Linked DNA regions of Homo sapiens: region 2 is linked to region 1. Evidence: fine-mapped expression QTL. A gene starts in region 1. The other region holds a variant in brackets. All regions are shown on one strand. Distances are between the middles of the regions.

The links. PIP is the estimated chance that this variant, and not a neighbour inherited with it, causes the effect.
Region 2: its variant is fine-mapped to the expression of ARHGEF38-IT1 in thyroid (GTEx, PIP above 0.99).

The regions. Positions count from the first base shown.
Region 1 is chr4:105,552,733-105,569,742 of GRCh38, forward strand. ARHGEF38-IT1 (ARHGEF38 intronic transcript 1) reads left to right here and starts at 8,859. Exons shown (of 3, transcript NR_046840.1): 1 at 8,859-8,915; 2 at 10,570-10,633. ARHGEF38 (Rho guanine nucleotide exchange factor 38) reads left to right here. Exons shown (of 14, transcript NM_001242729.2): 1 at 1-229. The coding sequence starts at 34. RefSeq lists enhancers at 2,496-3,045, 3,597-4,146.
Region 2 is chr4:105,577,219-105,594,228 of GRCh38, forward strand. ARHGEF38 (Rho guanine nucleotide exchange factor 38) reads left to right here. Exons shown (of 14, transcript NM_001242729.2): 2 at 12,030-12,217. Among named protein-coding and RNA genes, the nearest start is that of ARHGEF38-IT1, 24 kb to the left of the region's middle. The variant C/T (reference allele first, on the strand shown) is at 9,161.

The sequences.
Region 1 (17,010 bases):
CCTGCAAGCCTCCAAAGCTTGTCTTTGCCTAATATGGAGCCCAAAGAAGCCACTGGGAAAGAAAACATGGTCACCAAGAAAAAGAATCTGGCCTTCTTGAGGTCTAGACTCTATATGCTGGAGAGAAGGAAGACTGACACTGTGGTTGAGAGCAGTGTTTCTGGGGACCACTCTGGCACCTTGAGGAGGAGCCAATCTGACAGGACCGAATACAACCAGAAATTACAAGGTAACCAAAAAGAAATCAATTGTCCCAGTTACTGCACTCCCAGCTCCATTTCTGCTACGTTTCCAATTGCAAAGAAAACACACAAGGCAGAGGGGAAAATTGAATACCACCTCTCCTTCCCACAAAATAAGAAGATGAAAGTAAATGTGACCTATAAATTATAGGGAAAAAAATTTATTACGTGATTCAATGTTAAAGAGTCAATTCCGAATTACTCTTAATATTGCTGTGTTTTTCTTTTTTTTTTCCTGGTGAGGGTAATCATTTTTCTTCTAACTTCCTCTTTTCTTCTCCCTTCTCTACCCAACTTAAGAAGTGGGAAACACTGGAAAGCAAATGAGTTAGAAACCTACAAAAGATTGTTTATCTCAATGGGTAGATATGTGATATTACACCATGAGATATATCTAGGTAATGGTACTGAACTATGATTGTGGTTATCTTAAATAGGGGCATGAAACTATAATCGTGTCTGTGACAAAGAAGGAATGTTATAGTCAGAGAGACGGTATAAAAAGATTTGCTGAAATTCACTTAGGTGATTATTTCCTTTGAGTAAATTGAATAATACTCAAATATGGTAAGAAATGTTTAGCATGCTTATTTTGAATGACATTTGAGGAAATAACTTCAGTTTATTTTGTGATGGTACAAAGATAATTTGGCACAGTTATGATAGCACATCATTTGTTTCAGGGCCTTAATCTATATCCTGTCCTATCTATCCTTTCTTTCTCTCCTGTTTCCTGAAGGTCATTTGTTCTAGTAAAATTTCATTTTGATGTTGATATTGGGCAGCATTTTAAGTCTTTTCTTCGGTACTTGTTATGTGGTCCTCCAGAACTTGCCTCTCCTGCTTTTAGCACAAGGTGTGTCTGAACTCTCATCATCCCACTGTGAGCTGTCGTTTTGGATTTAAAAACTGTGATGAGGTCAGAAAGACCGATAGGACATGCTTATATTTAACAAATCTCTTTCCACAAATATGAGCTTAGATTTAGTTATGCAAATTAATTAAGTTAAATAAGTTAAATTAAATGCATTTAAATTAAATCTAAAAATTATTACTATAAGTTAATGTGTAAAAATAAAAAAAAAATTACCAGTAGTTCAGCACTAAAGCACAGCATCAATCTTATCCTCAAATACTTTTTTTTTAAAATGAGGGAGAGCATTGTTTAATCTTTGAAATTAATTTTTCTCCAAGCAATAGATACATTGGAAAGAATGGATGTCTTAAAATTTCAACTTTTATTTTAGATTCAGGGGGTATATATGTGTGTTTGTTACTTGCGTATTTTGTGTGATGCTGCGATTTGGGGTACAAATGATCTCATCACCTGGGTACTGAGCATAGTACCCAGTAGGTGGTTTTTCAGCCCTTGCCTCTGTCCGTTTCTCGCCACTCCAGTAGTCTCCAGTATCTATTGTTGCCACCTTTATGTCCATGTATGTCTAATGTTTAGCTCTCACTCATAAGTGAGAACATGCAGTATTTGGTTTGCTGTTCCAGCATTAATTTGCTTAGGATAATGGCCTCCGGTTGTATCCATGTTGCTGTAAAGGACATGATTTTGTTCTTTCTTCTGGCTGTGTAGTATTCCATGATGAATATGTACCATGAGAATTTAAAATCATACACATTTAGTTTCTAAACCTGGTTCTTCAACTTACTACCAATTAGAACTTGAGCAAATTACTTGAAATATCTGAGCCTCAATTTTCCTGTCTGTGAAAGTGGGACTAATGATACTTGCCACATAGTGTTGTTGGGAGATTGAAATTAGATAATTACAAAACATCTAGTATACTGGCTGATAAATTTTAGGAATAATGGGTACCATAATGATAAAACAGAACTTGCCCAATATTAATCGAAGTTTGTATACCTTATTTCTCTTTTTCAATTCTTTTTTGTCCTTTGATAAAGAGACCACATCTAGAAATTCAGGAAAAGCCCATTGCTTTATCCCTAATGACATGTTTTTTCTGTCTGAGTTTCACTAATTCAGCATCTATCAGAGTCTCCATTAGCAAAATAAAAACAGAAAATAATTTTTGCTATTCACAAATTTTTGCTTACTAAATTTTCCTAAAAAAATAAGTCTATGACCACACAAGAGAGCAGACATGGGTTGGTTACTTTGCAGAAGACCTCAGACTTCTTACGCACTTCATTTGATTTGTGGCTTTCCTGTGCTCTGTTGGATTCTTTGAAGGTGGAAGGCAAAACTCAGCAGTTAATACATGCTTCTAGTCTGTGCTTGAGAAAAATCACCAAGAAGTATAGAGGAGCACATAAGCCATAAAGATAGGCTGGCCTCCTGAGAAGTAACATCTTAAAAACGTAACCCTTAAAAGAATCCAAGTCTGATTATCGAACGCCTAATAGAGCTTTTAGCATGGTTCGACTAGAACAGGGAAGGCGACAAGGGAAGGCATTTTCTCATTAATGTTCAAAGCAATCAGTTCTGTGCGTTTGTTCTCTGGCCTGTACGATACCCATTATTATGCAGATGAGTCCTAAATCACCTTAAGAAGCTCTTTATTATTCAAATGCCGAGAGATTTTCCTCTCCCTTTCTTGGAACTGGTGGTCCCTGGGAGGCACTGAATAAACACCTGGACTGGTTAGAGCCCTCAGATAGATGGCCTAAAGCTCTTGTGAGGTCAAAGAGTGCTTTCAAATACTGGAATTTCTGGCAACACCACATTCCTCAAATTATTTAGCTGGTTATTTAATTAGTTATTTAATTGGTTGTCCTTCAATGCTATATTACCTGAGTAAAATTCACTGCTCTAACTCTCTGGGGAAGCAAGTTCTCTGGGTTCCGTAAAATGTAAGATTTTTCTTTGGTGCTCTTGAGCTTGTCTTTTAACTCATGATACCTAGTCTATCTGTTCAATTCAATTTCTCACATCACTTTAGTAGCATGAAACTTAAGTTGTAATAACAATTTTAAAAATGGTACACTGGCTGAATTAAAACGATAGAACATGGCTCTAACCAGGACATCCTAAAACCTTTGCAGAAGATTGTGATCACATCAACATAGTCATTCCTACTAAGCCTGGAGTTGTATAATAATAGAAAGGCCACCCTTAGGCTCCCTTACTCCTTGAACAGATTAATTCAGTTGACTAGCATTTATTGAATATGTTATACCTTGTTCTTTGAAATTAATTTTTCTCAAGGCCCTTGATACATTGGAAAGAATACAAATTGTAAAATCATACACATTTGGTAAATTGACATTTATTGAATGTTTTAGATGCTGTGTCTTGAGGGTTACAATGAACAGCAAAAACAGAATATGTGCCAGGAATTACAACTACAAAATCATCAAGAAAACATGTCTGACCTTTACTCCAAAGAGGCTCAAAGTCTGGTTGGGAAAGATAAGACAGGTAAACAAATAAATACAATAAAGTGGCATGATAGAAGTGGAGGTAGGATCAGTGGGTCCACAAAAGGAGGAAACGGTCTATTCAGGACTGCATGAAGGAGGTTGTCAGAAAATGGTGTCTCTAAGAAATGGTAAGGGTAGGGATGAGGGAAGGTACAGGTAAGAGAATGGCATTTTAACCTCTTCACTGTATTTAGCTCTGTCTGAAATGGTTTTTGTTTCCTTGTTTATCACCTGTTATTGACTGTTGTTCCCCTCCCTTTTCTCTCCCTCCCCGCTCATACACCATGAAAGAAACCCTATCTGTCTTGTTAACTGTTGCATCTCAGCAGCCCAGAATACAGTAAACACTCAGTAACTGTTAAATAGAGTGAATGACTTGAATGATCAGGCCCAAGCAGGAAACTGGTGTGAAGAAAGACACCATGGCCTGAAATAAGAGCCATTGTATTTATCTAAATATGTGAGGACACATGTTTCTATCAGAAAGATGATTCTTCAGTTAAATGAACATCAGAGATTAAAATGTACAGAATTTATATAATAAGTAATTCTTAGTGGAAGCCTGTTTCATTCCCAACTCGACCTTTCAGAGCACACAACAACCATATTTCAAAAATTCCTCTTCTATTAGTGACAAGAGCCATCTTAACTTCCACTAGCTCAATTCCTCATTTCCATTCTACTGGGAGCCATAGAAATTACCTAAATACAAGAAATTTAGTGGTTGAGTTGTAAAAACTCAGAAAGGGTTTCATAAATACTTATATACATGATCTCTACATTTGAAATATGCCTAATTTAAATAGTTATACAGAACTGTGTCTGTGCATATGCAGATATATATGTGTATATATATGTGTGTATATATATATATCTCCAGTATGTAGATATAGATATACATGTATGTACTTGTATGTGTTCGTGTGTGTACTTGAGACACTTTTTTGCAATGATTAGACTTTTTATTGAAAGTTACTATAAAATTTGAAGAACAAAAAGAACAAAAGTTTACTAACATTCAGGAGTCTTTTCTGAAAACCATATATGAATTATATCACTGACATTATAGGTTTCCTCTCAGTATGGGTACTATGGACTGAATGTTTGTATTCCTCTAAAATTCCTATGTGAAACCTAATCCCCAATGTGACAGTATTAGGAGGTGGGGTCTTTGGGAGGTAATTAGGTATTGAGGGTGAAGCTTTGGTGAATGGGATTAGTGACCCTTAAAAAAAAAAAAAAAAGGCAAGAGAGAGCTTGCTTCTCTCTGCTCTCAGCCATGTCAGGATACAAGAAGGTGGCCATGTGCAAACCAGGGAGTGGGCTCTCAGCAGGAATAAGATCTTCCGCATTAGGAATAAGATCAACTTGATTCTGGATTTTCTAGCCTGCAGAACTGTGAAAAATAAATTTTTGGTAAACTTAAGCCACCTAATCTCTAATATATTTGTTATAGCAGCCCAAACCAACCAAGACGGGTCGATTACCTTTATCCTCTATGGCCACACTAAACTTCTGGTTAATTTTCTGGCCAGTGCATATTTTTGTTTATCCAACACCAGGTGAAAAGGTGAGAATACATGGGTAAAATGCTATTACCCATTACCACTGCCGGTAACACAAGGCAAAAATTACGTCTCCATTTCTTAGTGTGTCTGTGGTACCTTCTATTTTTGCAAAGGCTATTGTATCATTCTAATTAAGAAAGGTTATCTTTATGAGACCCAAAGTTGTCTTAATATGGTGCGAAAGATGAACCACCCTACTGTATGAACTTTATACAAAATAACAGATTGTGCCATGTGGGGACAAGTGGCTCAAATAATAAATTAGACTTGGTAAGACTATGAGGGCATTTAATTTAAAATGTTTTTTAAGAATATAGACAGTCTGTCAGGGAGCAGAAATTAACACTGGAAGACTTGGTGAGTTTTGTTCAAGGCCAAATGAAGAATGGAGTAAAACAAATTGTCCAGCTTCCTGTGCATGTTTCTATCCCAGTGCTACAAACCCTTTTTGTTCGTGTCTGTTCTTTGATTAGTGAGTAGCTCCTTCCCCTTTATCTGCCTTCATACACTCTACAGTGAAATGGGAAGTATTTGAATCAGTAATGTGACACCAGTACAAACAGGTGTGTGTCATAGTTTGAAGGGCAAATCTTTCTAAAAGGCAAGACGCTTTAAAAACTCAGTAACTTTTGTCTTACTGCATATATAGAAACCAGTGTAAAACACGGTATTTTACTTTCCTATTTTTTTCAGTAGAGACATCTTGCAGTTTTTAGAAGGACCATTTGTGTCAAATAATGTGTGAGTCACAGAAATTGAGACTGTTTGAGCTATTCTACTACTACCATATTGTGATGGGCAAATTTATTCCTATGTTTGACCGATATGACTTTAGGTATAACTTTCTTAAAAGTAGCAAACACAATTTCTAGTTGTGCTTTTTTTTTTTGTTTATAAAAATTATGGGTTTATCAAAATGAGACATCAAGAGGAAGAAGGAATGAAAGAAAGGAAGGAGAGAGAGAAGGGGAGGGGAGAGACAGACAGAAACCAAGCAAGCAGCAAGAATGAATAGAAATATACCTTAAAATAGTAATAAAGTTGGAGAAATGATGGGAGAGAGAAAAGCACCCAAGCCACATTCATCTTTGTTTCTGTTGACACAGGAAAAGAAAAAAAAAAACCTCTGTTTACAGAATTACTTTTTCTTGATGCCATAATCATATTAGCATCAGTACCTTTATGAATATTGATTTCCTGATAAAAGTAGAATTATTGCAAGAGTTGCTAAATTTATAAGCAGTATCGTTCTTAGAACCAGTCAAGACTCAAAGTTATGGCTTATTTGGGAGTCCTACCTTCACTTCTAGACTGTTTCTGAGACTGTGGAATTTTCTGTTCAACAGGCCTCAGTACTGGCTCCAACATTTGCTTGGACCGCTTCTTATCCCATGCTCTCAAGGGCAGACTGTGGTTGCTGGTGTGCATGCTCTTAGGCCTAAGGCACAATTGATGATGGGGGTGTTTCTGGAGCTTGATCATGCTGGAGTGTTCAGATCATGTCTACCAGGTTCCTCTGGGTGGGAAAGCTGGTAGAGAGAAGAGTAGGGATTCAAGCCTCAAGATTAGGTAGGAGTGCGTGTGTCCCATGGTCCCCTGCCAAATTTTGGCATAAAACTCTGAGGGATATGAGAAATCTAAATTAGAAGTTGGCCTTTCAGATTGTTATAAAATATATTTATCAAGACAGAAGGAAATATCACATTTTATTTAATAGTTTGCCAGCTTCATTTATAACTTTTAAATATGTAGATCTGGTATGCTGGCCTCCATCTGTATCCTTGCTCCAGGTCCCACAAAGGAGGCAGCTATGTGTGGTTTTTGACTGTAATCTATTTCAGGATATAACCCTTCTTCTATACTAGGTTGTGAAAGTAAGAGGGAAGGGGAGGGAAGGAAGAGATTGAGTATTAGTGTTATGTTATCTGCTAGGAGCTATGCTAGCCAGATGCTGTCACACACACTGTTACTGAATCCCAACTTCTCTTCTGTTCAGTTCTGATTTTATCATTGAGAAAAATAGGTGGTAGGCCTTGGGTTTGAGATGTCACATGCTTGAAATATTTGCAAAATGGAATGAATTTAACTAGTTGACTCAGTAGGTATTTTATACATATGATTTACTAAGAAGTCAAAGCCATTTGATGGTTGCAGCACATGTTTTGTAATGTGATGACATTTCTCTGCTACCATAATAAAGCTTAACTTGCTGTTTTTCACTTTGGAATATATTTTCTTTCTTTTGACTTATAGTGGCATGTCCCTGCCAGACTGTCACTGTTTAATAAATACTTTTTTTGTTTAGTTGTCGGGGAACAAAATTACAAAGGTAGGTTAAGCAAAACTGTCTTATAGTAATAGCTTAATGATCTCCATTTCCTGCTTCATTGCGTATCTTGACACTGAAACTCATCTTTCTTTAATTTTATGCCTGTTGTCATTTATTTGCATCTCAATAAAACTTAATATATATCAGAATAACTGAGAGTCCTATTCTACAGCAATGAGAGGAGGGAATACATTTGCAAATGAAAAGAATGGAATTATGTGTGGGAAACAAGCAACTTTTTATCTGGATAGGTGATATTTCAGTAGAATTGTATGAAGTCAGCTTAAATTGTGAGTCATAACTTAAATGCAGCAGGAACACAGAGTGCTATGATTTAAGACTTTGTCCAAGGTTTTCTGAACAATGTTTTTCTTGATTAATGAATCAGAGAATAAATGAATAGTCTAAGATACCTGCACTGAAGCCCTCGATAGAGGATGCAATCTTAGACTGACATACAATTCTTACTTAAAGAAGAAAACTTAAAGGTCATGTCATCTAGCTACTACTCTAAGTATTGTGAGTCATTATAGCACTTCACAGAAACTGTTTTTCCTGAATGCTTCTTAATGTTAGGTCTCCAGTGTCACTACAAAAAGCCATCACAGATTTCTCCTTCTGTGTTTGTTGTGAAATGGTTGATGAAGACATTGTTTACCTCTCTCAGATTTTATTCAATGGAAAGCTGACTCTCCTTAAGAATAAAAACACATCCCCTCCCAGATAAAAACAAGCAATTTACTATATTTAGCTGCTAGGAGCTTAGGGTCAAATTTGTTTTTGTTCCCTGGCCTTTATATTAACTATTTTGTCTGTCTAAAAGTTTCTTTCCCATAGAGGCAGGGTGTGGTGGCTCATGCCTGTAATCCCAGCACTTTGGGTGGCCAAGGTGGGTCTATCGCTTGAGCCCAGGAGTTTGAGACCAGTCTGTGCAACATGGTGAGACCCTGTCTCTACTAAGAAAACAAAACAAAACAAAACAAAAAATTAGCTGGTTGGTGGTGCATGCCTGTAATCCCAGCTACTTGGGAGGCTGAGGCACAAGAATCACTCAAACCTGGGAGGCAGAAGTTACAGTAAGCTGAGATCATGCCACTGCACTCCAGCCTGGAGTCTCAAAAATAGAGTAGAATAATAGAATAGAATAGAATAGAATGGAATAGAATAGAATAGAATAGAATGGAATAGAATAGAATAGAATAGAATAGAATAGAATAGAATAGAATAGAATAGAATAGAATAGAATAGAATAGAATAGAATAGAATAGAATAGAAAAGTTTCTTTCCCCAGATCTCTGCAAGAGCAGATTTTTATCACTGAAGTCTCTGTTCGTCTTTTTTGGGAGTCCCTCCCTGACCATCCGACCTAAAGTGATGTAGGTAAGGGAATACCTTTCCTCTACCCTCTTAAATTCTGTGACTAGGACCTGTGAATTGTATAGACAAAAGACATACTAACAAAAGAAAAAGCATACACATTTTACTTGAGGTTAACATTTTTATGTGTCGTAGGAGGCTTTGTAGGAAGAAAGAAGTAAAAACCTCAAAGAAGCAGTTAGACCTAGGGGTTTACATAACATTTTAACAAAGGTCATAAATTGTGGAGATATGACAAAGCCAAAGTAAAAGAGTTTAGGGTTGGGGAAAGAAATTGTGGAAAAGTGACTAGGAAATACATGGGAGAAGCTAATGGAAGATAAGGGTTATTTTTGTAAGATTTGTTTGTGTAGATTCATCTCTGTGTCAACTCCCTGTCTCTGATGATGAGAATATTCCCTTCTTGGTGATACAGGGAGGGCACTTTTCTCATGGTAAATTTACACTCTGCTTTTAAGTAAAAAAGGAAAAGGCAGAGAGCCCTTCCTGCATCTGCTATTGAGCATCTCCAGCTCAAAATAATCAGTATCCCAAAGTGGCATATTTAGGGATGGTGTGTTCTGATCCCCCTCAGTGGCTTTCATACCATCTATTACTCTATGAAATTATACTACTTCATTCTATTTTTGGCTTTTGCTGTCATTTGAATATAATTCTCCTTGGGGAAAAAGACTTAGCATTTAAGCAATGCCTGGTATACAGTTATTCTGCTCAATGACTATTTATTGAATGACTTTAAAATATCCAGTGAATAATTACAACTATATTGATCCTTATGACATACTTGCTTTTACAATTCTGTCATTTTCACTTACCCACTATGTAATGGTAGTTAACTTTCAGTTAATTTCTTTACATTCTTTTTCTGTAAAGAAAGATTATAAATAAATAAATTTAATTAAAGAAGAGACTAGAAAGAGTTTCCTGGCCAAGAAAAATAGGATCTCTTTTTAAATGAATTTATTCAACAAATATTTGCTAGGTATTCGTATGTGCCAGGTATGACTAGGTCCTAAGAATGTTTTTTAAAATATCAGAAGCACACCCAGCCCACTGAGTGAGACAGGTTGTGAACAAATTATTGCAGTAATGTAACAAGGGCCTGAAGTATACTGCAAATTGGGTTTCCGACTTGCAAATTCTGAAATAGAGATTCGGGTGGAGGGGAATTATTAGGCAACATTCTGTGACCACCACCTGGGGAAGAAAAGGGAAGGACATAAGCCTGGGCACAGGGAGAGGCCGAGCTGTGATGTGGTCTCATTGGAAGCTTTAGCCAACTCTGAGGGAAGTTCTGAAGACAGATGATTTTTTGGAGTTGTCTCCAGTGTTGTGAAGGACCTGGGCCCTTGTATCACACTTTACGTTTGGGGATGTGGCTATCTTGGGAAAAGGCATGGCCTGAGAGGTGCTTTCATCTGAGATAATTCCTAAAGAGGGCATATCTGCTGGTTGCACTCCCGGCAGCTGAAATAATAATTTATCCCTTCCTTTAAGGGGAACGGGTGCTAACATGGCATCCACCACATATTAAGTGGTTATTATTATTAGAGACACAAATAAAGCAATATAGGAGCTATGATAAGAAAGAGCTTAATTGCACCTCTGAAATGCCAAAAGAAAATACACTGAAATCTGAATCTTGAAATCCAATTAGGACTTTTAGGGGCAGAAGCCATTCCAGGCAGAGGGATTATGCTGGTCCTCATACATGGAACAAGGTAATAATACTAATTTTTGTATTTGGGGATTTCTAAATGGAAGAGCAGGTACAAACACCAACTGAACATCTGTAGTAGGCACTTAGGTGCAGTACGTCATTTCATGCTCTTAGCAACTTTGCAAATAAGTTATTGCCATATATTTATAGATGATAAAACAGAGGTTAAGAGAGGTATAAGCATTCTCCCAGTGGTCACATAGCTATTAATAGCAACTGGTGAAGTCAGAGTTTTCCTGAGGTTTGCTTGGCTCCAAAGTCAGGGCTTTTTCAACCATCATGCAGTTTTCCTGTTCTAACCTTAGTTTTTAGTAGTAGTACCTGTTTTATGGTTTGCTCTTAAGAAATCAACTGATTTTAATAAACTTTTGAACAATACTCACAAGCATCAAGAGAACTGTAAGTTCTGCCAATACATTCATCGGCAATCTTGAAGTGAACAGTGACCAACAAGTATTTTTCAGTAGCTGTGTTATTTTATGCCTCTCAACAAAATGTTCTATGTGCTTGGAAATTAGAAAGATATGTACTTGCATTGAATAAGGTCCATACTTCACAGAAACACTAGAATATTCTGCTCTAAAAATACAAAACTGATTATCTGAATTATCTAGTCTTTGAAAACTCCTTGTCATCACTAACTACAGAGTACTTACCTGGATTAGGGTACTCAGTGAAAAACTGGGTCAGAATGTCAAACTACATGGCTCCTTTGCTTAACACTCCTCATTGCTTTTCATTTTTCTATAGCTAGCAGCAGTACCCAAAGAGGGGAATATATAAACCCCAGGAGATTTTACAGACAATCTATTGTGCAAAGAAAAAAATAGGTTTGTTTTTCAGTATTGCTCTTTGAAAATATTTATTGTTGTGCATGCTTCATAATATGTATGATACATTAATATGATACGTATATTAGAGGTGTATACACAGAACAGTTTAACTGACACAATAAAAACATTTGCAGTAAAATTCTGACACGCTACTACATGGATGATCATCAAAGATATTGTGCTAACTAAAATAAGCTAGTCACAAAAGGACAAACGCTATATGATTCTACTTATATGAGAGTAGTCAAATTCATAGGGACAAAAAGTAGAATGGTGGTTTCCAGGGGCTGGGGGAAGGAGGAAATGGGGAATTATTGTTTAATGGGTAGAGTTTCAATTTGGGAAGATGAAAAAGTTGTAATGATTGCATAATAATGTGAATGTATTTAATGATACTGAACTGTTTACTTAAAAATAGTTAACATTGTAAATTTTATGTCCTGAATATTTTACCACAATAAAAAATGATAAAAAAGTTTGGCGGCCCTTGGTTTACAATATTAAAATGGAATGTAAGGCTTTTCCCAATTTGACTCTATCTCATCTCTGGCCTGGAGGACAGTGTTACTTTTGTCAATGAAAAGAGTCAAACTCTGTGAAATATTTGAAGATATTTATTCTGAGCCAAATATGAGTGGCCAATGGCCTGTGACACAGCCCTCTGGAGATCCCGAGAACATCTGCCCAAGGTGGTCAGCCAGCAACTTGGTTTTATACATTTTAAGCTTGGGTCAGGAAAGGTGGGACACTCATCTTCTGCTAAAGACTTTAAATAAAAACATTTTCTGAAGTACCCATTTATTTAACTCCTCATTGCTCTGTCTGTGCTATGCTGATCACTGTCGGAGCCTGTAAATTCAAACCAATACCACTTCAGTATTTTTCAAGACAGGTAAGCTTTGTTTAATTCCTTTTTGAAATCCACTAATCTACTTTCTATGCCAATTAGCAGTCAGAGGAAATAAATCACATGCCCTTCCAATGAAGATAAAATATTCCCAGCCCCAGTATTTGAGCTTTCAAATTCAGAGTCTCAGAGGGTCTGTTCCTCCACATTTTCACTTAATACCTCACTGGCTCCCCTCCAAACCCTGTCTGACATGCAATTATTTTCAACCTATTTCACAGAAGTCTGCTCCATTCATCTTTCTGTGGGTCAGATTTCCATTGAAACTGATTTTAAACGATAAAAGATTTTACTGTGTGAAACGTATGTTGGTAGGGCTCGACGCAATGCTAAGCCAAGATTTTTTTGGGTTTATTGGGGCAGATATGAAATTGGCAGCATGGAGAGGGATGAAAGAACATTTATAATCATATCTGGGGGTTTCGTAATGATCTGTCTGGAATAAAACTGTATATTGAATTATGGGTGGGTGTTTGCACTATACGGGTAGAAAGGGAATCGGACTGATAGAGGCAGGGAGGGAGTGTTGGTCAGAAGTTCTGAACTCAATTTCTGGCTTTGTTACTTAAGGTAGAAGACTTACTCTCTCTAGAAATTAGCTTCCTTTTTTTATATAATGAGATAGAGCTGAGCAGAACTTATCACCTTATCTCCTCTACCTGCTCTTTTCCTGTTGTTCCCTATTTCTTTAAATGGCACCATGACCCAGTTAACAAGTCAGAAATCTGAGAGTCAGCTTTGACTTCTCCTTTACCCTCTGCATTGATTACTCACCAGTTCATGCTAATTTCACCTCTTGAATTTCCCTTGATCTGCTCTGTTCTTTCTATCTTCTTGGCAATTAGACTAAGCTTAACTCCCTCCTTCTTTCCCCTAGTGACTGGACTGTCCATGCGAAGAGCCACTTCACTACCCACAGGCTTCCTCCTCACCCTCCCCTCTCAAATCTAGTTCAGTGGAGGCCAAAGTGATCTTGCTAAGAGAATCTAATCATGTCCCTCATTTATTAAAAAATTCCTCATTGTCGAGATCTGTCTCCTGAGAATTTCTCTAGACTTGTCCCCTTTTCACAACCTCTATCACTTGTACTTCAGCTGCACTAAGTTGTTTTCGCATCTTTTTTTGCCACCAAGCCTTTAAATATACTATTTCTTTTGCTCATGACACTTTTGCATTTCTCTTCACCTTGTGCTACCTGTTTCAGATTTCAACTGTGTCACTTCTCCATAGGACTGATGTCCAGGCTGTGCTATGCTTGCATGGGTCACAGGTTATCATAATTCTATTTATACTAACTACAGTTTTAATTTTTTTATTTTTAATTTTTGTGGGTACATAATAGGTGCATATATTTATGGGTTACATGAGATATTCTGATACAGGCATGCAATGCATAGTAATTCCATCAGGAAAAATAGAGTATCAATCACCTCAAGCATTTATCCTTTGTGTTACAAATAACCCAGTTATACTCTCTTAGATATTTTGAAATGTACAATTAAATTATTTTTTTATTATAGTCACCCTATTGTGTTAGCAAATACTGGGACTTACTTATTATTTCTAACTATGTTTTTGTACCCGTTAATCATCCCCCTTTCCTCCACTACATCCTCCAGACTACCCTTCCCAGCCTCTGGCAGCCATCTTTTTTTTTTTTTTTTAAGAGACGGAGTTTTGCTCTTGTTGCCCAGGCTGGAGTGCAATGGCACGATCTTGGCTCACCGCAACCTCCACCTCCCAGGTTCAAGCGATTCTCCTGCCTCAGCCTCCCGAGTAGCTGGGATTACAGGCATGCACCACCACGCCCAGCTAATTTTGTATTTTTAGTAGAGACAAGATTTCTCCATGTTGGTCAGGCTGGTCTTGAACTCCTGATCTTAGGTGATCCTCCTGCCTTGGCCTCTGAAAGTGCTGAGATTACACACCTCGCCTGCCATCCTTTTACTATCTATCTTCATGAGTTCAGTTGTTTTAATTTTTAGCACCCACAGATAAGTGAGAACATGCAAAGTTTGTCTTTCTGTGCCTGACTTTTTTCACTTAACATAATGGCCTCCAGTTCCATCCATGTTGTTGCAAATGATGGGATATTATTCTTTTTATGGCTGAATAGTAAGTACTCCATTTACACCAGTTTTTAAATACTGACCAATATTTTAAAATGCAAAGTGATTTGTTTGCAGAATCTTTCTGGAATAATTCTTAATCTTTTAAATTTGTCTCATTCAACTCCTAATATAACAGCAGTGCTTTGGCAACTTGACTTTATAAAATTATGTCAAAACATTAAAGCAGTTTTCACAGAAACATACACATGGTATTTTACCCTCATATTTCATTAATTATGTAAGTTTCGTTAAAGTAATATAATTACAAAGAAGTACAACTGACATAATGAAGTCAGCTGTTGAACACAATTAAGTCTTGAAAAATATGCCCCTTGATTGTTAAGTGGAGAAGTACATAGACATCAGTTTGTGTATTTAAGGGAGATAATGGAAAATGTTGATTTATCTCATGACTTCAATACCCTGTCTTTACTTCTAGATTATACATATCTTGATGGTAAGAGCTGTTGTTTATTCATTTAATATACACAACACAAAGCACAATATCAACTCAATATCCAATATGTAATTTAAAAAATTAATATTAAATTAGATATAAGGTTTTTTTTTCTTTTATTATTATACTTTAAGTTTTAGGGTACATGTGCACATTGTGCAAGTTAGTTACATACGTATACATGTGCCACGCTGGTGCGCTGCACCCACTAACTCGTCATCTAGCATTAGGTATATTTCCCAGTGCTATCCCTCCCCCCCTCCCCCCACCCCACAACAGTCCCCAGAGTGTGATGTTCCCCTTCCTGTGTCCATGTGATCTCATTGTTCAATTCTCACCTATGAGTGAGAATATGCGGTGTTTGGTTTTTTGTTCTTGCGATAGTTTACTGAGAATGATGATTTCCAATTTCATCCATGTCCCTACAAAGGACACGAACTCATCATTTTTTATGGCTGCATAGTATTCCATGGTGTATATGTGCCACATTTTCTTAATCCAGTCCATCACATGAACAGACACTTCTCAAAAGAAGACATTTATGCAGCCAAAAAACATATGAAAAAATGCTCATCATCACTGGCCATCAGAGAAATGCAAATCAAAACCACAATGAGATACCATCTCACACCAGTTAGAATGGCAATCATTAAAAAGTCAGGAAACAACAGGTGCTGGAGAGGATGTGGAGAAATAGGAACACTTTTACACTGTTGGTGGGACTGTAAACTAGTTCAACCATTGTGGAAGTCAGTGTGGCGATTCCTCAGGGATCTAGAACTAGAAATACCATTTGACCCAGCCATCCCATTACTGGGTATATACCCAAAGGTCTATAAATCATGCTGCTATAAAGATATAAAGTTTTTTAACTCCAAAGACTATGGAATTTGTAAAATTGTTAACTTACCTTCAAATTCTAATATTCTTTGATTTGTATGTAATTATAAACATATTTGTGTTGTGATGAAATTATATATTAGTTAATGGCCAGATTCTTGTGTTGTATTATCTTTGTGTTCTCCACAGTCAAATGACTGTGAAAGTTGCTCAATAAGTAAGTATCAAATGGTGTATGTGTGCCTGCCTGGTTGGTTGTTGGGAGTATGAGAATGTTCCAACATTCTTGAAGTATGTCTTTGTTAGCAGCATGAGAACAAACGAATACATACTGCATTTTGTTTATAAAAGTGCATATTCCTGAAAATTATTTTTAGGGTGAGGGCAAGTGCTGTTAAGTAAGGCATTAAACAAAACCTTAAGCTTGGTATATGAAATTATTCACTACAACTATTCTTTACTAAGAGATCAGTAAGATTTCAATACAATTAAGAAAATCTAAATTCAGGATTATTTATTGGTAGCTATTGAAAAACAATATCAGAGGGGAACCTTAATCTAAATAAACAATGACTTAGAATTTTACAAGTAATAATAAGCTGTGTACTTTAGCAGGACACAGCTGTTTAATCATCTCCTTGCCCATTAAACTTGTTTGAGAAGCACATTCTCAGTGACTGCTCAGAAACTTATTTGCATTGGTGATTTAGCTTTGGGGTAAATGATTCAGATTTTTAAAATTCAGATGTTATTATATTATGCTAAACAACATGCCAGGGCTATATCCCTAGCTCATTTGAATTTAGCCTGAATAATAGCAGTGCACATTAGGCCTGGTGTTGAACCGACTTTGTAGCAGTCTTTGCTGTTTTTGCTTTTTCCAGCCAAGGAGGGCAATTTCCTGATAGATGGTCAATCTCCCCTCTTGCCCTTGGAACATTTCCAAGGAAAAGAAAAAGAGGGAAAGCAGGTGTAGCCATTCACAACCAGATACAGAATAATGGCAAGTAAATCATGGTCGTAAAAACAATGACTGACATTTTTTGAGAGGTTTCTGGTATGTCAGACATTGAATTAAGCAATTTTCATGCTTTATCTCAATTCTCACAACCTCCTAGCAGTGAGCAGTGGTTAACATGCAGGTTCAGGAGCCAGACTGGCTTAGGTTTGAATCCTGGCCCTCCACTTTCAGTGGTGTGACCTTGGGCAAACTGCTTAACCTCTGTGTGT
Region 2 (17,010 bases), 24 kb after region 1:
TTAGGTATATCTCCTAATGCTATCCCTCCCCCCTCCCCCCACCCCACAACAGTCCCCAGAGGGTGATGTTCCCCTTCCTGTGTCCATGTGTTCTCATTGTTCAATTCCCACCTATGAGTGAGAATACGCGGTGTTTGGTTTTTTGTTCTTGCGATAGTCTTTTTTTATTATATCCTTTCCTGATTTTTGTATCAGAGTGATGCTGGCTTCATAGAATAATTTAGGTAGGATTCCCTCTTCCTCTATCTTTTGTAATGGTTTCAGTAGGATTGATGCCAATTTTTCTTTGAATGTCTGATAGAATTCAGCTGTGAATCCATCTGGTCCTGGGTTTTTGTTGTTGTTGTTGTTGTTGTTGGCAAATTTCTAGTTAACTTCTCCCATCTCGCTGCTTATCGGTCTAATCAGGGTTCCTATTTCTTCCTGACTTAATCTAAGAGGGTTGTATGTTTCCAGGAATGTATCCATTTCCTATAGGTTTTCTAGTTTGTGTGCCTAGAAATGTTCACAGTACTCTCAAATGATCATTTTTTATTTCTGTGGTGTCAGTTGTAATGTCTCAAGTTTCATTTCTAATTGAGCATATTTGAATCTTCTCTCTTTTCTTGGTTAATCTTGCTAATGGCCTATCAATTTTGTTTATCTTTTCAAAGAACCAGCTTTTTGTTTCATTGATCTTTTGTATTTTTTTGTTTTAATTTCTTTTGGTTCTGCTCTGATCTTTGTTATTCCTCTTCTTCTGCTAGCTTTGGATTGAGTTTGTTCTTTTTTCTCTAGTTCCTTAAGGTGTAACATTAGATTGTCAATTTGTGATCTTTTAGACTTTTTAATGTGGTCGTTTAGCACTATAAACTTTCCTTTTAGTGTTCCTTTTGCTGTATCCCAGGGCTTTGATAACTTGTGTCATTATGATCATTAATTTCAAAGAATACTTAAATTTCTATCTTGATTTCATCAGTAACCTCAAAATCATTCAGGAGCAGATCGTTTAATTTCCATGTGTTTGTATAGCTATGGGGGTTCCTTGTGGAGTTAATTTCTAGTTTTATTCCACTGTGGTCTGAAAGATAGTTGATATTATTTTGACTTCTCAAAATTTATTGAGACTTGTTTTGTGGCCTATTGTATGGTCTGTCTTGGAGGATGTTCCATGTGCTGATGAGAAGAATGTATATTCTGCAGTTCTTGAGTAGAATGTTCTATAATATCTGTTAGGTCCATTTGTTATAGAATATAAGTTAAGTCTGTTGTTTCTTTGTTGACTTTCTGTCTTGATGATCTGTGTAGTACTGTCAGTGGAGTATTGAATTTTCCCACTATTATTGTGTTGCTGTCTTAGGTCTAGTAGTAATTGTTTTATGAAGATGGGAGCTCCCGTGTAAGGTACATATGAATTTAGGATTATGATATCTTCCTGTCGAAATTATCCTTTTATCATTATAAAATGACCTTTTTGTCTTTTACTGTTGTTGCTTTAAGGTCTGTGTGATCTAAGAATAACCATTCCTGTTCGCTTTGGTTTCCATTTGCATAGAATATCTTTTTCCACTTTTTTACCATGAATTTATATGAATCTTTACATTTTAGGTAAGTCTCTGGAAGACAGTTGATATTTGGTTTGTGATTTTTTTAATCCATTATGCCAATCTGTATATTTTAAGTGGAGCATTTAGCCACTTACATGTAACATTGAGATGTGAGGTATAGTTTCATTTATCATGTCATTGTTACCTAGATACTTTCAGTTTTTCTCATTATGTTACTGTTTTATAAGCCCTGTGGATTTTATGCTGTCAAGAAGTTCTATTTTGGTGCATATCAAGCCTGGCTGTTCTTGGTGTATAGGAATGCTAGTGGGGTTTTTTTGGTATGTTGATTTTGTATCCTGAAACTTTGCTGAATTTGTTCATCAACTGAAGGAGTACCAGGACTATGGGGTTTCCTAGATATGGAATTATGTCATCTGCAAACAGGAATACTTTCACTATTTGGATCCCATTTATTTCTTTCTGTTGCCTGATTGTTCTGGCCAGGATTTCCAATACTATGATGAGTTAGAGTGGTGAGAGCGGGCATTCTTGTCTTGTGCCAGTTTTTAAGGGGAATGCTTTCAGCTTTTGCCCATTTAGTATGTTGTTGGCTGTGGGTTTGTCATAGATGGCTCTTATTATTTTAAGATATGTTCCTTCAATACCTAGTTCATTGACAGTTTTTAACATGAAGGGATATTGAACCGTATCAAAAGCCTTTTCTGCATCTGTTCAGATGATCATGTGGTTTTTGTCTTTAGTTCTGCTTATGAGATGAATCACATTTACTGATTTGCATATGTTGAACCATCCTTGCATCCCAGGGATGAAGCCTACTTGATTGTGGTGAATTAGCTTTTTGATGTGCTGCTGGATTTGATTTGCCAGTATTTTGCTGAGGATTTTTGCATTGATGTTCACCAAGGATATTGGCCTGAAGTTTTCTTTATTTGTTGTGTCTCTGCCAGTCTTTGGTATCAGGATGATTCTGGCCTCATAGCAGGAGTTGGGGAGGAGTGCCTCCTCCTCAATTTTTTGGAATAGCTTCGGTAGGAATAATATCAGCTTTTATTCGTACATGTGTTTGAATTTGGCTGTGAATCCCTCTGGTACTGAGCTTCTTTTGGTTGGTAGGCTATTTACTACTTACTCAGTTTTGGAGCTCATTATTGGTCTGTTCAGAAATTGAATTTCTTCCTGGTTCAGTTTTGGGAGGGTGTATATGTCCAGGAATTTATCCATTTCATCTAGATTTTCTAGTTTGTGTGCATTGTGTGTTCAGAATAGTCTCTGATGATTGTATTTCTGTGAGGTCAGTGGTATTACCTCTTTTGCCATTGCCAATTGTGTTCATTTGGATCTTTTTTCTTCTTTATTAGTCTAGCTAGCAGTCTATCTTATTAATTTTTTCAAAAAAACTAGATCTTGGATTCATTGATCTTTTGAATGGTTTTCATGTCTCGATCTTCTATTCAGCTCTGATTTTGATTAGTTTGTGTCTTCTGCTAGCTTGGAGGTTGGTTTGCTCTTCCTTCTTTAGCTCTTTTATTTGTGATGTTAAGTTGTAAAATTGAGATCTTTCTAACTTTTCGATGTGGGCATTTAGTGCTATATATTTCCCTCTTAACACTGCCTTAGCTGTGTCCCAGAGATTCTGGTATGTTGCGTCTTTGTTTTCATAGGTTTCAACAAACTTCTTGATTTCTCCCTTAATTTCATTATTTACCCAAAAGTCATTCATGAACAAGTTGTTTCATTTCCATGTAATTGTGTGGTTCTGGGCAATTTTCTTGGTCATTAATTCTAATTTTATTGTACTATGGTCTGAGAGAGTGGTTGGCAAAATTTCAAGGATTTTTGTACATGTACTGAGCATAATTATATGTCTGATTTTGTGGTTGATTTCAGAGTATGTGCCGTGTGGCAATGAGAAGAATGTATATTCTGGTTTTTTTGTTTGTGTCTTTGTTTGTTTGTTTTTTTGAGACAGAGTCTTGCTCTGTTGCCTAGGCTGGAGTGCAGTGACACTATTTCAGTTCACTACAACCTCCACCTTCCTGGTTCAAGCAATTCTCCACCACTAAGCCCGGCTAGTTTTTGTATTTTTAGTAGAGGCGGGGTTTCACCATGTTGGCCAGGCTGGTCTCAAACTCCTGACCTCAAATGATCCACCAACCTCGGCATCCCAAACTGCTGGGATTACAGGCATGAGCCACCAAGCCGGGACTATTCTGTTTGTTTTTTGGTGGAGAGTTCTGTAGAGGTCTAGAGGGCATAATAGAGACTGTAAGGAAGAAGCATTATTTGAAGTACTCCTTGTCTGTTTAACTCACCCCACCTGCAGGAGTAGTTGGAGGCCAAGAACAAGTCCCGGTGCCCCGTAGCCCCATACAGGATTCCCAGCTTTCTCTGCCTTGAGCCCAGCATCTGTGGCTTCCTTCTGTCCCCTCTCAATGCCTTTTCTTTGAAGATTTACTAGGAGTGCACCAGTCTTCCCAGTGTTTTGGTCACTTGGTGGGAGATGTTTCTCCTGCTTGCATGTAGTTGGCCATCTTGGAATGAACTCAGGAATAGCATCTTTCAAAAATTCTGAAAAGCTCCCAGCTTTGAGCACTTCAAATAATGTTCTTCCTTACATTCTCTATTATACCCTCTAGACCTCCTAGTAAACATTAGTTGAACCTTCTTATTCAATCCTCAACATCTCCTAACCTCTCTCACATATTTTACATGTCTATTGCATTCTATAAAATTTTCTTGGCTTGTTCATTAATCTCTTTAACTTTGTATAATTTACTATTTAGTTCATTATACAACTCAACTATTTATTCAACTTAGCCATTTATTGATTAAACAAAATAATTAAATTTTAATTATTATGAGCTTTTATTTTAAGATTCTGTATTATCTTTTAAAATCCACTTGATCATTTTTATATTCTCTTGTTTCTTGCTTATAATTTCAAACCATTACTTGTTTTTTAAACCTATTAAGTACCCTTTTTATATCTCTAATAATTTCAGTAACTTAAGACTTTGTGGATATAATTATGCTATCAATTTTATTTTCTGCATCTGACTCATGGTATCGTGTTTCCGTGTGTGTTTTAGGATTTCTTAAAATCTCGTATTCCTATGGCCGGGTGTGGTGGCTCACGCTTGTAATCCCAGCACTTTGGGAGGCCGAGGTGGGTGGATCACGAGGTCAGGAGCTCGAGACCAGCCTGGCCAACCCAGTGAAACCCCGTCTCTACTAAAAATACAAAAAATTGGCTGGGTGTGGTGGCGGGCGCCTGTAATCCCAGCTACTCAGGAGGCTGAGGCAGGAGAATCACTTGAACCAAGGAGGTGGAGGTTACAGTGAGCCAAAATCATGCCACTGCACTCCAGCCTGGGCGACAGAGCTAGACTCCGTCTCAAAAAAAAAAAAAAAAATCTCGTATTCCTTGCAATGTAGCTGCAAGGAACAGTTGAAGCCTGACTTGAGTTTCTATTCAATTTCATTAAGCTTTGTTCTTAATTTCCTTTATTCTATTTTCTTTTGGCTTATTGTATTTTTTTTTTTTTACTTATTTAGTTAAGAGTCAAATCATTTTCACTCTTGCTTCTTTTCTTGTATATGAATTTAAGCCTATAAATTTTCTGTAAGCAGTGCTTTACCTACATTCCACATGTTTTAATTTGTAATATTTTTCTTATCCTTATAACAGATATCTTCTATTCACTTTAGTCATTTCTTCTGTGACCCATCAGTTATTTTGTAGGTTTTGGTTCTCTATTAATTCCAAAACAAATGAGTCCTAACATTTTATTTTTGTTATTTATTTCTACATTAATTTCATGGTAGTTGTGGTTCTCAATTTACTAATTCTTTGAAATGTTATAACTTAATTTATAATGTATTTCTTCAAGTGTCCTTAAAAATACTATGTAATCTCTAATTATTGGAGTAAATATTTTCTGTCCTAACAGTCTATCAGTTACTGACAGTTATGTTTAAAATATCACTATTAAGACTGATTTGTCAAATTCTACCTTCAACTCTTTCACTTTTTGCTTCACATGTTTTGAAATCATGTTATTTAGTACATACAGAATTAGAATTTTCATATCTTCCTAATGAATGGGACACTTTATCACTATATAGTGCCCACTTTTATTTTTGCCTTAAAGTCTATTTTATCTGTGTAAAATAGCTATATCTCACCCTTCCTTTAATTAGTATTTGCTCAGTATATATTTTTGTACTTTCATCTTCTTGTGTGCTTATGTTCTCTACTATAAATGGCATATAGTTGTTGTTTTTTGAATACAGTTTGATAATATGGTCACTTGAGTTATGATTACACATAGATTTGAATCGACTGCCTTATATTTGTTTTTCTCTTTCGGTTTTCTCCTTTCTTCATTTGAACTGCTTTCTCTCCTCTACTGGTTTTGAAATTTTACATGCTATTTTATTTTAATGGTTGGCCTTGAAATTTTAACATATATCCTTAATTTAAAAACATCTAAAGTTCATTAATGTCTTTAGCTTTTCTGCAATATCACAAAAATGTTTAAATGTTTAAAATACTTAGAAGTCTCCACAATCTCTCCCAAGCTGTCCTGTCCACCAAATCTCTTATCCTCTCCCCAGCGTCCTCCTACCTGGCCACACATTGCTCTGCTTCCTGTTCCTTAAATAGGCCATGCACACGCTCACCTTAAGGTTTTCCACTGACCAGTTCATCTGCTAAAAACCACCTCTCCCAGATATCTGCATGACTCTCTCACCTTTCAACTCTATTTCAGGCCTTTCCTGCCATCTTATTTAAAATTGCACACGTTTTAAGCTCTTCCTAGCAGCTTTCATAGCATTATTTTTCTCTATATCACTTATCACCTTTTAGTATACTAAATAACTTGTTTAAATTATTTATGTTCTTCTTCCCCAACTAGAAGTAAAGTTCCATAAGGAAAGGAATTTTTTTTTTATTGCTGTATCCCCAGAGCCTAAGATGATTTTGGGCTCATAGTAAGCCCTTACTATTTATTTGTTAAGCATTCAATAATTTCAGATCTCAAATCCATATGAGAGCCAGTTAGTGTCCTTGAATTGTTAAGGGATGCTATTTTTTTTTCTATTGATCACCACCAAGGCTGAGACAAATCATTTTATTGATGTCTCTTTCTTTGGAGCATTATTTTTACTTAGTGTGTTTCCTTTTCTGATCCTTTATCTGGATATGTTTCCTGAGTATGTTCCCTTTTCCCACTCTTGATTTAAAAATTGCCCAATAAATAAATATTTTTATCTATTTATGGTTCAGTTCATGAAAAACAAATAGGAGAATAGATACTGTGCAGACAACAGCAGTGTCTGACACAATTATGCTGTTGTTACAAAAAAGATCCCCACTATATACTGTTATAGTTGCAAAAGCAAGTTGCAGAAGAATATGTATATGAGCTTGTTACTGTTAAAAAATAAAACAAAAAACTGAACTTCTGTAAATATGTGTATTTGTATGTGCATGGAGATATTTTGAGAAGCCTATACACTACACTAGAATACAACCAATAATACAGTAAAAATAATATTACAATTAATAAATAGGGATTGCATCTAATAATAATAAAACATTTTCAAGATATCCAGTATAATGCCAGGCACTGTTACAAGTGTTTTACAGACATTAACTAATTTAATCTTCGAAATCACTTTATAAGGCTTTACTAACGTTATCCTTAACTTACAGATGAGAAAATTGATACAGGAAGAGCTAAGTAACTTGTCTGAGGTAATAGATCTAATAAATGGTAGTGGTGGAGTTTGAACCCAGGCAGTCTGGCTCCCAAGGCTATGCACTTAAACCTCTACTATATCTACATCTCTCTCTCTATCTGTATCTATGTCTATCTATCTATAGCTATAGCTATTTCTATGTCTATCTATATATAACTTAGATAGATATTACAATTACATATTATTTTATAATTTACAAAGAAAGAAAGAAAGAAATTACCTCTCCTTAAATCCACCCCAAAATGGCAGTAGTAGTAGCAAAAGCAAGAAGAAAGGAAAAACAGGATAGGATAAATTCTAAGCAAAACGTGGCTATCAGTGAAGATTGTCTTCAGTCCTCCCCCAACACCCCTTTGCCTTTGGGTGCTGTTGCACTTCTCTAAGAGATCGAGGTTCTCCCCACGCATATACCCAAGCCAGATAAACTGCTCAGGATTCTAAACCCCAGCTTTGTTCTGACTTTCCTCCGAAAGCAGCATCCCTATTTTTTTTCCTCTTCCTCTTCCAACTGAACTAGCTGTCCACCCACTTTAGAGTCATGCATTTTTCTTGACAAGTTGGTAACCACAAAATAATGGGATAATTGTTTGCTCTAGATGGTGGAAGAGTTTGAGACTGTAGAGAAAGTAACCCTATTTTTCCCATTCCCACAGAAATAGTTAACATTTGTATTGTTTTAAAGATCTCAAGGAGCTTCCACATGGAGCTGCTCATTTAATTCAGTCTTCATGATCACACTGTGATGGTTTTCATGCATAGTTTACAGGTAAGGAAACCAAGGCTCTGTGAGGATAACTATTAGTTATTAGTCTACTGTGTTCTCACAGCTGAGTGGCAGAGCTGATCTCAAGTCAGATTATCCTTTTCCCAAACTGCAACAACCTCTTTTTATATAAACTTCCTTGGCCAGGAATCTCCACATATATTATTAATGAATTTTGTGGCTAGAATAGTAAAAATTCACATCACCACTGGAAAAATAAAGCTTGAGTGTGAAAGAAATACAGAGTGAAGTCAATTACATGGTACTGCTTTAATATACAGCTGCATATTTCTGTTATAGCAATCTGAATATCCTTTTAACCTTAGTTTCACTTTGGCTTTGACATTGTATTTTATTATATGCAAACTATTGGGAAACATTTATTCTTAAAACAATTTTTCCTTCTTTCCTAAATAGCCCCTCCGTTGCTTTTTTTTTTTTTTTTTTTTTTTGAGATGGAGTCTCCTTCTGTCACCCAGGCTGAAGTGCAATGGCACTATCTCGGCTCACTGCAATCTCCGCCTGGTGGGTTCAAGTGATTCTCCTGCCTTAGCCTCCCAAGTAGCTGGGATTACAGGCATGTGCCACCACACCCGGCTAATGTTGTATTTTTAGTAGAGATGGCGTTTCTCCATGTTGGTCAGGCCGGTATGAAACTCCTAACCTCAGGTGATCCACCCACCTCGGCCTCCCAAAGTGTTGGGATTACAGGCATGAGCCACTGCGCCAGGCCCCCTCGGTTGCTTCATCCAGAAATAAAAGACGGGCTATAGCTGACTGCTGATTTGGGCGATATGTGTTGGCAATATTGTTGAGTTCCAAATACTTTTATATATAAAAGCTAAGTATAACTAAAAGATAAAATGTTTAAATGCAGAGAAAGATCTTACAAAAACAAAATGTGTCCACAATGCATTGCAGAGTTTGTTGGTTTAAGAAATGCAAACATAGAAAGTGTTTAGAAACCTGACCATAAAATGATGCAAGTGAAGTTTTTGTTCCTACAATAAACTTGAGTCAAAAGAGCAAACAAAGATATCTCATAAGGTTGCTCAACTGTAAATTCTCTGAGAGATTTTTA[C/T]ACCTGAGGGAGAAGTTGAGTATTTTCACTGACACTTTATTTCACCCACCTTGCCCCCACAAATTTGTTCTCAACAAGTTGTTGAGCAGTATTGGAAAACCTAAGCATTTTTTAATTGACAAAATCTGATGTAGTACATTTTAAAGTGCAGCAACTGAAACGTCTGTGAAGCAGGTTAAGTTAACATTGTGATTGAGTCCTGGAATTTAGAACTAAAAGGAACCCAAATGCATGTTTTAGGGATATTCCTTTGTCGACGATCAGGAAAAACTTCCTTCTCCTTGCTAGGATCCCAAATAATTCATAGATTAATTTTATAAGGCATAGAAGGTTTAGAACCTGGAAAAGCAATGTCAGAGCAGTTTTTCATCAGCATCATTTTTATTTTCAAGGAAACATTAAGTGATAATTGGGCAGTGTCCATACTGGTTTGTCAGCTCTCTTACGCATGAGATTTCCTCCTGTGCTCTATTTCACATACTCCAGGAGTAAAGGACGTCCCTCACACCTCTCTGCCCTCAGTCTCCCCCACCCCCACCCAATCATTTCACTATGTATAATACATCAAAATATTATGTTGTACATCTTGAATATACACATTTTTAAAAAGAAAGGGCCACAATGCAGCCTCCTCACTGCAGCTCCTCTCATAAGGTGTCCTGTCTTCCTCTTTCATATCCAAAATAATTCATTGTAATGACACGTGATTGTAACTTGCTTTTTCAAATCTGGGGCACTGAGAGGCAGGCTGCTTCTACTTTCCAATGCAAATATTACAAATTAGGCTGGTGCAGTGGCTCACACTTGTAATCCCAGTGCTTCGGGAAGCTCAGGTGGGAGGATTGCTTGAGCCCAGGAGTTTGAGGCTGCAGTGAGCTGCAATTGCACCACTGCATTCCAGCCTGGTTGACAAAGTGAGAACCTGTTTCTGAAAACAAAAAACAAAAAAACAAATTAGCAAGCACCCCCAAATTCTCATAATATAGATCAGGATTGGAGGGCTACAGGATATCTCATGCATTCATTCTCTCTCCTTGAATAGATTATCTGTTCTTATATAGCTCATGTGGATTATGATTTATGATTATGATTATTATTTTGAGACAGAGTCTCATTCTCTCGCCCAGGCTGGAGTGCAGTGGCACGATCTCGGCTCACTGCAAGCTCCACCTCCCGGGTTCATGACATTCTCCTGCCTCAGCCTTCAAAGTAGCTGGGACTACAGGAGTCCGCCACCACGCCCGGCTCTTTTGTTGTATTTTTAGTAGAGATGGGGTTTCACCGTGTTAGCCAGGATGATCTCGATCTCCTGACCTTGTGATCTGCCTGCCTCGGCCTCCCAAAGTGCTAGGATTACAGGTGTGAGCCACTGCTCCCGGCCTCATGTGGATTATTTCCTTAGCACTAAATAGCCCAAATCTCATAAAACCATGTGGTTTTGGATGCTATTTGTCAAAACTTCCTGCTTTCCTGATGAAGGAGGGATTGGTAGGCGATAAATGGTTCCAAACATACTCACCTGTGGGTCTGGATTGTCCAAAGATCAACCTAGTATAGCTTCCAAACTGATGCTGGAATTACTCTCCACAGATGTTTGAATATTGAGTCTCTGCCTTAAATGCTGAAGTTAGTGGACCAGAGAGAGAGCTCATTACTTTTTAAAGTGTCTGTTCACATTCCTGGGGCAGTCTCTTGACATCACACCATTAACTCTTCTGCTATATTGTTTCTCCAGTTGTCTTAGCTTTGTTCCCGGAGTCAGCCAAGAAAACACTGTTTATTTTCACTTTCATACATTGTGACCTGTACATTTATTTTTTACTGTACAGACTCTTTATAGGCCCTTTTGTAAAGTCCCACATTCTCAGGGAATGTGTCAACATTGAAGATGTCTCATATACCAGTTACTAGAATCATGTTAACTTTAAATGAAATATAATTACTTCTGCAACTGCAGAGACTAAGATGAAAATTAAGCTTCAAGCTTGAAGCAAATCCATTTACACACACTCTTACATACACAGACTCACACACTGCCCTGATGTTTATCGCCACTTTGATTTCATGGTCTGTGGTCTGGTTTGTGGCTTCCAAAATTTTACATTGCTCTGGGGAGCTCGTCCTTGAAGATACTTAGCTTTCTTACTTGAATACTTCATATAAACTTTTGCTATGTGTGAGGCTTCCCATTTATCTCATTATCTCCCCAGTACTGTGACTTTTTAAATTAAAACTTTCTGTTCGACAGTTCAAGAATTTTGAAATAACAAGATATGCTTGGTATAAAAGATGAACCATGAAAAATTTCAGTTGAAATTTATTTAATCCACCACTTCTTCACTCCTCATGGATTCTGATAGTGAATTGAAAAGAAAAACTCCAATCATGCAATTGTTTTCCATTTCATTGAGATTTGGATATTACCCACTGAGAATGAGAGGTAATTGTTTTTAATAGCAGTGACAAAATTCATTTTCATTTACTAATTAAAGGCATTTCATTTACTAATTAAAATTCTTCCCTTGATTTAAAAGCAAATGTGAACGGAAGTTGTGAACTGTTTTTTTTATACATTTGATCTCCAGGCTGAATACCGGCTTTATAGGCTAAGCTACAACAATGGGATATTTTAAAGAAGCCACGATAATTGAGTATCATTTAACTCACTTGTTAGAGGAAGTTCGCTCCCACTTTTCTTCTTGCTTATAGTTTTGTAGGGGAATGTCCATATATCACTTCCTAAGAAAACATCATGAGGATACCTTCAGCCTTTTTCCTTGTTAACAAAGTCCTTCGAAGGCGTTGTTTGTAATGAAGGAAAAAGAAACCTCAGCAGAATGCCTCACCTGTATATGTTTTCATTTAACAGAAAAGATGACTCCACAGGGTGAGTGTTCTGTAGCTGAGACCTTAACCCCAGAGGAAGAGCATCATATGAAGAGGATGATGGCAAAGCGGGAAAAGATCATTAAGGAGCTGATACAGACAGAAAAGGATTATCTCAATGATCTAGAGCTGTGTGTTAGGGAAGTGGTTCAGCCCCTGAGAAATAAAAAGGTAAATATATATTTGAGATTTTTTTTTCTCTCCCATATCATAAATAGGATCACTAGCACCATGAAATTGAAGCACTCAGGTGTATCAATGGGATGATGTGCCTTTCTCCCCAAAACAGCACTGTTCTCAGCTCTGGGGTTACAGTTTAGTACAAAACAAAGTCCTGCCCTTGTGGAGTTCACTTTCTAGTGCAGAAAAGGAGGAGTCAGACAATACACAATAAATAAATAAGCAAACAAAATTAAGATATGTTATATGGTGTGAAGTATGGCTGAGGAAACTAAAGCAGGGAAAAGGAATGAAATAAGGGGACAAGGCCGGGTGCTGTGGCTCATGCCTGTAACCCAGCACTTTGGGAGGCTGAGGTGGGAGGATCACCTGAGGTTCGGATTTCAAGACCAGCCTGGCCAACATGGTGAAACCTCATCTCTACAAAATTACAAAATACAAAAAATTAGCTGGGCATGGTGGCACACGCCTGTAATCCCAGCTACTTGGGAAGCTGAGGCAAGAGAATTGCTTGAACCCGGGAGACAGAGGTTGCAATGAGCCAAATCGCGCCATTGCACTGCAGCCTGGGCAACAGAGTGAGACTCTGTCTCAAAAAAAAAAAGAGAGAAAGAAAGAAAAAGAAAGAAAGAAGGAAGGAAGGAAGGAAGGAAGGAAGGAAGGAAGGAAGGAAGGAAGGAAGGAAAGAAAGAAAAAAAAGAAAGAAAGAAAGAGAGAGAGAGAGAGATGGGGACAAACGAGTGGTCATTCTATTTCAAATAGAGTGGCAAATGAAGACTTTTCCAGTGGAGGACATTGAGCAGAGAACTGAAGGAGGTAACAGAATGGTCCAGGCAAAGTGGAATACAAGGGCAAAGACTCCAAGGAGTGATAACTCATCATTAGGGTTGTAAATACACAAATCAAACAATATAGAAAAACAGAAGCTAGAAAGTGAAAATGATCAGAAATTCCACGGTCAAAGAAAATTACCATTAACACAATCAGACATATCCCCTCAGACATCTATTTGAACACTTACATATACATATACAAGCACATATATTTTTACATAAATGTGATCAAAACTACAAATAATATCTTGTAACATACTTGTTTCATCCATAAATCTGTTACATGTATCTTTTTATGAGTACTAATATTTTTCAATATCTGTCTACTATTACAGTGGTTGAGATGTTTTGGATGTTTGTTTCCTTATATCCTTAGAATAAATTCCTAGAAATTAATTGTTAGGTCAAAGGGTATGCATATTTAAGATTTTGAATAAAATGGACAACTGCCAAACAGAAAGTCAATATGATTTTAATATTCATTCCTATTAATAATGATTCAGAGAGCATTTTCTCTGCATCCTCTTTAATGCTGAGACTTGTTGATTTCATAAATGTTCTTTTGATTCCTTCTGATAAATATCTTCTCATATATTCATTGGCCTTTTCTGTTATTCATATCCATGTTTTTTGCTGTTTTAAAAAATGATGGTTTAATATTTTTCTTATTATTTTATAAGAACTTTCTGTGTATTAGAGTTATTCTTTTTCCATCCCACATGTTGCAAATAATTTTTCTGGTAAGTCTTTTGGTTTCTAACCTTGTTTAAGATGTATGTTTATTTTGTTTTTGCCATGTTTAGTCAAATATATCCAACTTTATTGATTCTGAGACATATTTTAATATTACCCATGATTATAAAAGCATTGCTAGCCTGTCATGCCCCCAACTATTTACAACATTCAGGAGCAGATTTTATATTTCTTAACACAGTACTCTTCTCAGATTTTTTTGTTTTGTTTTGTTTTGTGACAGAGTCTCGCTCTGTCACCCAGGCTGGAGTGCAGTGGCGCTGTCTCTGCTCACTGCAAGCTCCGCCTCCCGGGTTCATGCCATTCTCCTGCCTCAGCCTCCCGAGTAGCTGGGACTACAGGTGACTGCCACCACACCCGGCTAATTTTTCTGTATATTTAGTAGAGACGGGGTTTCACAGTGTTAGCCAGGGTGGTCTCCATCTCCTGACCTTGTGATCCACCCGACTTGGCCTCCCAAAGTGCTGGGATTACAGGCGTGAGCCACCATGCCCGGCCTCAGAAATATTTTTTAAAAAACCATCTGGCCTACATATTAGGGAAAACCAGTATAGGTCAAGGCACTTCTGACACAAAAATTGTTTTTTGGTCTAAGACAATGTATAAAGAGGAGTAGCAAAGAAGGCATGGAAGCCTTTTCTTACACAGGAAGTCATCTTCAGTTTGCCTCATGACTTTTATTTAATGCTTACTATATGTCAGATCTTGCTCCAGGCACTTCATTAGCATTCTCATTTAATCCCCCACAGTTCCCACGCCAGAATTACCAGACACTTTCTGAAAACCTGGAAATTTCTTATTCATGATGTAAGAGTAGAAGTAATATTGATGGTCGTGATAAAAATTTGCTCTTTAGTGTCATTGCTACGTATATAAATGTTTTCTGCTGTGTTTTCTTTATTTTATTAACATATAAACCAGATGTATTTGATATAACTGCTATTCTGGCAGATATCAATGGTTACTAACATGTTCATTTACATACTTATTCAAATGTTGATTTTAAATGCACATAGCATCAGACTCTGTCACTACCTTTCCTTATGGTACAGTCCTCCCTGTCAACTCTTATTCTTTGAAAAATTTGGAACCTAGCCCACTGTGTCTATGTATTCTCACTCTCTCGCTCTCCTCCTTAATTCTGACATCTTTTTTAGGTAATTTCAATATTCATGCAAATAACCCATGCAACATTCGGGCCTCTCAGTTCTTTCACTTTTTCATATCCAACAATCTTTCCTCAATCCCATTCAGCCACTCACGCCAGGGTCATAACCTAGAACTTGCCATTACCAACAACTTCATCCCCTCAAAATCAGAATTTCAAGCTTACTATTCTCTGATGCCCAAGCCTACTCCCACTGGTACGATTTCTGACAACCTTCTGATGGCACCGAGACCTCCAAACTATGGACATTACTACCATTTCTCTCTTCATCGGGCCCAAAGATGCTTTAATTTCTATGGGTCCTTCATTATAATCGCTCCTTGCACACGACCTCAATTCCTTTTTCTCTCTTTCTTTCCATTTACTTCCCTGCAACAACTTACTCGAGTGAAGTTCAATTTTTCGTCTACTTCACACCTTTACCTGTGCAGCAGAATTAATCTCTTATAAAATTCATGACCACTTTCTACTGGGGCCCCCAGTAATGTTTCTGAGGAGATTCTCTCACATTCTTTTCCTCACATGTCAAACACCCCTTTTTCTTCTCTCAGCTTATGCCCTTTTCCATCATTTCATAAAGAAACTAGAAACAATAAGATGTGCACACTCCCAACACCAAATCTACCAACTTACTGCATCTCTACCTATATAAGTTGGCTTCCTCCTATTACCGGAAGCAATGGTTCCCGCTTCTAATGAAGGATGACCTCTCTCTGCTAGTGCAGTGGATTCTATCCCCTCAGACTGAAAGGTTTTACTCCAGTCTGTGTCCTTTCTCTCTCCTGAATAATTAGTTTACCCTCCTTATGGAATCATTCATAGCACTATTATCTACTATCTTAAAAACCAAAATCAAACACAAACAAACCAAAAAAATTGTTTTCCTCGATCCTAAAGGAATCATCTATATTCATTGTCTATTTTAAAATTAAATATAAAATATTTACTAGGTATAAGAACATTTGTGACTAAAACATGTTTCAAAATAAGCACAATTTATCAAAAATCTGTCCCTGCGATTGGCTAATGATCAATATAAAAAACAGTAAAAAACACGCCCAGTTGCAGTGGCTCACACCTGTAATCCCAGCACTTTGGAAAGATCAGCACAACCAGGAGGATTGCTTGAGGCCAGGAGTTCGAGACCAGCCTGGGCAGCATAGGGAGACCTCATCCCTATTTAAAAAAAAACAGCCAAGTGTAGTGGCTTGCTTCTGTAGTCCAGGCTACTCAGGAGGCTGAGGTGGGAGGATCACTTGAGCCCAGGAGGTTGAGGCTGCAGTGAGCCATGATCACGCCACTGTACTGCAGCCTGAGAGACAGAGCAAGACCCTGTCTCCAGAAGAAACAAATAAACAGACAGACAAAAACATCAAATATACAAGAAAAGTCTTTCTTTGAATTCTTAGTCCACATTTGTATCAAATGGACTAAGTTTACCTTATATGAAAATGTTGCCAATTTAAATAATCTGCTACATTGGTGAGTCAAACTAGCCCCGCTAAAATGAATGTCATTGATAGCTGTATTCTTATATATTTTCTCCAATTCTTTTTTGTGCTTTTACTTTTTGTTATTTTTCTTTACTTGTTTTTGGCTTCCTATGAAACTCTTATAAGCAGTTCTCAGAATTGGTGTCTTAGACCATGCCAGGTAAAACTTTTCCATTATGGTAACATTTATGGTCGTTTATTTGGCACATTTGGCTTTTGCTCTCAATACTGTGAATTACAATTCTCAAAATTCTAACTCACATTTTCTAGGTTGTTTTATTTGAATTGTTTATAGGTTGTTGATTTTTCACACTTTGACCTTGTTATTTAGCTATCTTTCAATGCTGTCTGCTCTCTGCCTTCCTCATTGTGGACTTTAATTTCATTCTATTAGTTCTCTCCACTAAGGTAATAGCAATTCTCTTAAGGTTCTCAGAATTCTCATGTCAGATCTGCCTTTTTCCCACTTCTCAAAACTTTTAACCTTTGATTAAGTAAATAAATGTTCGGGTACTCATATGACTCTTATCAGCGTTT